Linked DNA regions of Homo sapiens. The protein of the gene in region 2 purifies or fractionates together with the protein of the main gene of each other region. This does not show direct contact. Each region holds a gene or a part of one and is shown on either strand. Other genes may lie near its edges.

What was found.
Region 1: the proteins of ACO2 (region 2) and ACAA2 fractionate together in Homo sapiens (co-fractionation; one large-scale study listed by BioGRID). This does not show direct contact.

The regions. Positions count from the first base shown.
Region 1 is NC_000018.10:49,796,534-49,800,033, reverse strand, and holds part of ACAA2 (3-ketoacyl-CoA thiolase, mitochondrial), read left to right. Parts: intron 1-2,439; coding exon 2,440-2,568; intron 2,569-3,500. UniProt on the Homo sapiens protein: In the production of energy from fats, this is one of the enzymes that catalyzes the last step of the mitochondrial beta-oxidation pathway, an aerobic process breaking down fatty acids into acetyl-CoA.
Region 2 is NC_000022.11:41,507,117-41,510,616, forward strand, and holds part of ACO2 (aconitate hydratase, mitochondrial precursor), read left to right. Parts: intron 1-674; coding exon 675-933; intron 934-3,500. UniProt on the Homo sapiens protein: Catalyzes the isomerization of citrate to isocitrate via cis-aconitate.

The DNA of each region.
Region 1 (3,500 bases), on a different chromosome or scaffold from region 2:
CAGACAGGGTGGCTGCCAGGCGGAGGGGCTCCTCACTTCTCAGATGGGGTGGCTGCCGGGCGGAGGGGCTCCTCACTTAGACGGGGCGGTTGCCGGGCAGAGGGTCTCCTCACTTCTCAGATGGGGCAGCCGGGCAGAGACGCTCCTCACCTCCCAGATGGGGTCGCGGCCGGGCAGAGGCGCTCCCCACATCCCAGATGATGGGCGGCCGGGCAGAGACGCTCCTCACCTCCTAGACGGGATGGCGGCTGGGAAGAGGCGCCCCTCACTTCCTAGATGGGATGGCGGCCAGGCAGAGACGCTCCTCACTTTCCAGACTGGGCAGCCAGGCAGAGGGGCTCCCCACATCCCAGACGATGGGTGGCCAGGCAGAGACGCTCCTCACTTCCCAGACGGGGTGGCAGCCGGGCAGAGGCTGCAATCTCGGCACTTTGGGAGGCCAAGGCAGGCGGCTGGGAGGTGGAGGTTGTAGCGAGCAGAGATCACGCCACTGCACTCCAGCCTGGGCACTATTGAGCACTGAGTGAACAAGACTCCGTCCGCAATCCCAGCACCCCGGGAGGCCGAGGCTGGCGGATCACTCGCGGTTAGGAGCTGGAGACCAGCCAGGCCAACACAGCGAAACCCCGTCTCCACCAAAAAAATACGAAAACCAGTCAGGCGTGGCGGCGCGTGCCTGCAATCGCAGGCACTCAGCAGGCTGAGGCAGGAGAATCAGGCAGGGAGGTTGCAGTGAGCCGAGATGGCAGCAGTACAGTCCAGCTTCAGCTAGGCATCAGAGGGAGACCGTGGGGAGAGGGGGAGGAGGAGGGGGAGAGGGAGAGCTGTGGATTTTTTATAGATTCCCTTTGTCAGATTGAGAAAGTTGCCATCTGTTCCTAGTTTGTTCAGTGTTTTTGTCATGAAAGGGTGTTGTATTTTGTCAAATACTTTTTCTGTTGACTTTTTGTGTTGAAATCCACATTGGATTTCATTGTTTCCTAAGAAATAAGTAAAACTCATTTATTCCAAGTGATATTTAATAATATTAAACTCAATTAGAAAAGCAGCTTTGTGGTATTTGTCAAATGTTATTCGAAGCATATTCTGTTCTCTCTTAACCATAAAGGCCTAACCCCAAATATTTATCTGTTAATAATTTACACGAGATGATCGTGTAAATTTTTTTTATTCTGTTGATATGTGATATTTGACAAACCTTGGCAAAAGAATATCCATTGGCCAAGAATTTTTTTAATGACATTAATTTGTAAAATAAGATAATTTCATCTCAGTCAACAGATGAAACATTTAGTTAGTAGATTAATTGATGTTATACTGAGTTCCTCCCAGTTCCATCTGCATTCAAAACCCTTAACTTATAAATGTGCCGAATTTGTCAAGTTTTGAAAAACTTGAAACCTACACAAAAGTTAAAAGAATAGTACAATGAACATCCTAAAACCCCGTACCTTGATAGACCAATGTTTTACATTTTGTCAAACTTGCTTTTGCTCTTGCTAACAGCCTCCAAAACAGGCTGTTAATGTTTTTGGTTGTTGTTGGTTTTTTTTTTTTAAGTCATTCTTTTTATTCAAAGTGTGGTTCTTGGACTAGCAACATCAGCTTCACCAGGGAAATGGTTAGAAATGCAGAATCTCCGGCAGACCTAGACCTGTTGATTCAGAACTTACATTTTATTATAACAAGACGCCCCCATATGCATTTTAAAGTTTTGGGAGTGGTGGTCTACTCCTACCTCTTACTCTCCTGACCAATCATTCATCTGTCTTCTCCCTAAGTATGCAGTCCTCAGCCTGTTTTACATTAGAATTACTTGGGATGCTTTTTAAAAGTGACTACTGATGCCCAGGCCCCACCTCCAGCCTTTCTGGTTTAATTGATTTGCTTAGGAACTTAAGCATGAGTATGTTAATAAAGCTTCCTAGGTTATTCCAGCCTGCAACCAAGGTTGAGAACCACAGCCTCCGATACTTCCTCTGTTAAGGAGCATACTACTTTAGGATAGCGTATTCCATTTTTAAATAACTCTAATTGTTATAAATTTCTGTCTTATATTAAGGACTTAATGGGATTTCTCTAAGTAGCAATTATCTTTAATATATTTGAAAACCAATTGACTGTGGTTACACAACATTATGAATGTATTTAAATAATACCATTGAACTATACACTTAAAAATGGTTACAATGATACATTTTGTTATGTGTATTTTGCCCCAATAAAAAAATAGAAAAAAACCCAATTGACTGTAGTTTTTATTCAAATTGTAAACACATATTAGATATAATATGCTGTACTTAGATGCATTTTGTCCTACCTTAGAGCCATATAGTTTATCATTTTTGATAGATTGCCAACATTTCCATGTATTTCGTGCTTGTTCTTAATTAGTAGATTTATAGAGAAAATTATTTTTCTTTTCCTTCTCTCTTCTAGAGTTCTTCAGATGCTATATATTTGGCAAGGCATGTTGGTTTGCGTGTGGGAATCCCAAAGGAGACCCCAGCTCTCACGATTAATAGGCTCTGTGGTTCTGGTTTTCAGTCCATTGTGAATGGATGTCAGGTATGGACAACATTTTTTTAAATTCTCTGAAAATATGTTAATAGTTACTAGAAGAAATGTCCCACTGCAATATAACACTTTAGCTTTAGGGAGGATTGCTTGAGCCCTGGAGGTCAAGTAAACCATGATCATACCACTGCACTCCAGCCATGGGCAACAGAGTGAGACCTTGGCTCCAAAAAAAAGAAAAAAAAAAAAAAGCTAATAATGAACCTGAAAGTGGAATAAGCCTGTCATAAAAGGACAAATACTGTATGTTTCTACTTCTTTGAGATACCTAGCGTAGTCAAATTCATAGAGACAGAAAGTAGAATGGTGTTCCCAGGGACTGGTGAGGGAAAGTTAGTGTTTAATGGATATGGAGTTTCAGTTTTGCAAGATGAAAAGCGTTCTGGAGATGGGTGATGGTAATGGTTGCATCACACTATGAATACACTTAAACTACTGAGCTGTATACTTAAAAATGGTTAAAATGGTAAGTATTATATATATATATATACTTCAATATTTTTAAAAGCTAGTATGTTCATCATTCTTTCGAGTGCTTCCTACATGCTAGGCACCCTGCTAGATTTACATTCAATATCTCATTTAATCTTACAACCATCCTATGAAGCAAGAACTATTATTATTATTCCCATTTTACAGGCAAGGAAACTGATTAAAGCCATTAAGGTTACTCAGTCATAGAATTTGAACCCAGGTCTGTGAGTGTTACCTGTGAGGCACTGAATAAAGACCGTGAGGCAAGCAGGAAATCTCAAGAATTTAGGAGAGGATAAGGAAATGTATTTTATTTCAAAGGAAGTGAATGATGCTGTTAGTAGAAGTACAAACTAGTTTGACCTTTTTAAAGGACAGTTGGTTAAATACATTTGTTTCTTTGAGCACAGAGAAGAAAGTGAAATCCAATTTCATTTGTAAAAGTCTTC
Region 2 (3,500 bases):
AGGAGGAGCTGTGAGAGGCCAGTGGCAGTGACCCGGTCTCTGTTCTTGAAAACTGACAGATACTCCTGTCTATGTCTGGAGCTAATGGGCAAAGTCTTAGTGTCATAGTTGGGTAGCCAGGCATCCCAGGCCTGAGGTGTGGAGGGTTGTAGATGGCGGACAGGGTGGACAGGTGAAGGGGATGCTGGTCCTGATTCCCTGTGCCTTAGTGGGGCTGAGGGCACAGAGGGAAGTAGCGAAATCTAGCTGTGAACTTGGTCACTCTCCTGAGCCTGTTTCTTGGTTGTTGTTAAATGGCTTTCTTGGTTGTTGTTGTTGTTAAATGGCAGGAATGATGAGATATGCATGTTGCGGGGACTTAGTAGGAATTACGATGCTGGGAAAGCCAGGATCCTTTGAAAAGAACCAGCGCTGCCCTCTTGTGATGTTGTCATTCACTTACTCATCAAGTAATTGTGGAGCACCTAACAAGTGCCAGGTGCTGCAGGAGGTGAGGAGGTGGTGCAGTGAACAGGACCCAGCAGTCCCCACCCAAGTGGAACGTTGAGGTCCTGAGTTCAGACTCCCTGTCCCTGGCCACTGTTGAGGTTGCCACATGGACTGAGAGGGAGAGGCAGGGCGGGAGGAGGCCGTGCAGCTAGCACCAGGCCACCCTTCTGCTCTTCTCCCCACAGACTGAACCGGCCGCTGACACTCTCGGAGAAGATTGTGTATGGACACCTGGATGACCCCGCCAGCCAGGAAATTGAGCGAGGCAAGTCGTACCTGCGGCTGCGGCCGGACCGTGTGGCCATGCAGGATGCGACGGCCCAGATGGCCATGCTCCAGTTCATCAGCAGCGGGCTGTCCAAGGTGGCTGTGCCATCCACCATCCACTGTGACCATCTGATTGAAGCCCAGGTTGGGGGCGAGAAAGACCTGCGCCGGGCCAAGGTGAGCAGAAGGTGGCTTTGGGGGTGGGCAAGTGGGCAAGACTGGGCGAGAGGCCTCACCCTCACACTGGAGCAAACCAGGGCATTGCCTCCAAATTCTCACACCTCTTTGGATTGGTCTGCTTTTAAAACTTGATTTTACTTGTTTCTCTTTCTAAAAATAGCACTTGCTCATTATGTTAAAAAATACAGAGGAAGCCTAAAGAAAGAAAAAATCATCCTTGACCTTACCACACTGCAGGTCCTTTTTCTGTCCTGTTGGAGGATGATGTGGATCCTGCCAGGTGCTCTGGAAGGGGCCATGCAGGCCTCCCTGTCTGCCTGAGCAGTGAGGGGTGCATCTTAGCATAGTTTGCCAGCATCCCATTTGCACCCACTCCCGCTCTCCTCTGACCCTCCAAGGACCCTCTCCGGGAGGTAGGCGTGCTAGGGTCACTATTTGTAAATTTGAGGCGGCAGTGGCATCATACTTGAGTTCTGTAACTACATGAGGGCACGATTAGGGCTCAATGCTGATCCTGGCTCCCACTCTGGTGCTCTGTCACTGAGGAGCCTCCTTTGGGGGCCATTCTTCTGTGAGTTTTGCTTAACTACATGGGGGTGGCTGTATGCCATGCTGAAGGCTTTTCCCCCACCCTTCTATGAAATCGAGTTCCTGCTCCTTCTCCCAGGCTCGGCTTGTGGGACCTTTGTGTCAGCCTGCTCTTGGCAACAGCGGGCCTCTCTCTCCCAGCTCTGGGCCTCCCCACTCTCCAGCCCCTGCAGTGGGAGTGGGTCCCCCTCACGGGGAGGGGCGTTGGCAGGAGCTGAATGCTGGCAGGGCTGCGGCCTGTGGGCATGTGATTGAAAGTGCTCCAGCTCCCAGGGTCAGCATGGCTCAAAGCCTCCCAGCCCCATGGGAAACACTCGGGGCGGCGCTCTCACTCAGACCCTCTCTTCCACCCTGGCCCCCTGGTGGTATCCTGGCTCCACAGTGGCTCTTTCCCCTCAGCTGAAAGGACAGTCCTGCCTGCCGGCCGGCGGTTTCCACATTAGCAACAACACTGGTGGGGGTAATAATGTTACAGGAGCTCCCACAGTGCCGGGAACTGCACATGGCCGGGAACGTGGGTCCTCTGCAGCCCTGGGGACAGCTGCCCACAACAGGGCTGCTACCTTCTGGGGCTGGCTTTCTGCTTGCTTTATGGGCTCAGAGTGAATCTTCTGGAGATGAGATGCACACTCATAGCATTCAGAGCTCATTCCCTCATGCGTTCAACAAATTGAACATTCTTTATGTGCCAGGCACTGGGCTAGGTACTGAGGTTCAGTGTGAACAAGTCAGGCAGGGGCCCTGCCTTCAGGGATCTGCTTGTGGGTGTGGACACTAAACAATGGCCGAGGTAGGTAACTGCAGATCTGGGTATGTGTTAGGAAGGGAAAGTGCGGGACTTGGTCAGTATAAAAAAGAGGTCTAATTTAGATGCTGGGGGAAAGAGAGAGCTTCTTTGAGGATGTGACAGATAACCTGAGGACTGAACATATGAGTTGCATTGACTGGAGGAAGAACATGCTAGAAAGAACAGCATTTGCAAAGACCCTGAGCCAGGAAGAAACTTGATGCTTTTGTGGAAGTGAGAGGGGGCCTGTACTGCTGGAGTTCTCTGTGTTTGGAAGAGCGGGTGGTATGAGGTGGGCAGGGGCAGCCAGGAACGCGAGGGCTGTGGGAACGCTATGGTCACCATCCTCAGAGTCCTAGAACAGTTTAAGCGGAGAAAGAATATGGTCTTTTTTTTTTTTTTTTTTTTGAGACAGAGTCTTGCTCTATCCCCCAGGCTGGAGTGCAGTGACACACAATCTCGGCTCACTGCAATCTCGGCTCACTGCAACCTCCGCCTCCTGGGTTCAAGCGATTCTCATGCCTCAGCCTCCCGAGTAGCTGGGATTACAGGCACCCACCACCATACCTGGCTAATTTTTGTATTTTTACTAGAGACAGGGTTTCACCACGTTGGCCAGGCTGGTTTCAAACTCCTGACCTCAGGTGATCCACCCACCTCGGCCTCCCAAAGTGCTGGGATTATAGGTGTGAGCCACCACGCCCGGCCTAGAATGTGGTCATTATTACGTGTATTTGTAAAGTGTCCCTCTGGCTAGGGCTCAGAGGCAGTGACCTGTCTAGGGTCACAGAACCAGAGATGGATCCAGGCTGAGTCCAGGCCGAGACTCTGGCACCAGTCTGGGGTCCTCCCACACCCCTTCCTCACACTTAACACAGACGTGTAGTCACATGCGCCCAGACACGACCACAGCCTCCTGTCCTGGATACCAATTTCATAAGTGACCGATTTGTAAATGAAAAAGCTGATGTATTAATTATTAATTGGAAAGAGACTGCTCTGGAAACCCACGTTCTTTGCCATTCTCTTACCTGGGGGAACCCAGTGGGCCTTCAGAGGGCACACACTGGTCTGGAGTTTCAGTGAAGGGGTGTGTGGTTTGAGTGTATCTCATCAAGGGTCCGAGGGCACTGGCTGAGGTCCCTTCTCTGAAGCATCGCTCTCCCATGCCGGAGGCTGGCAGGTCCCA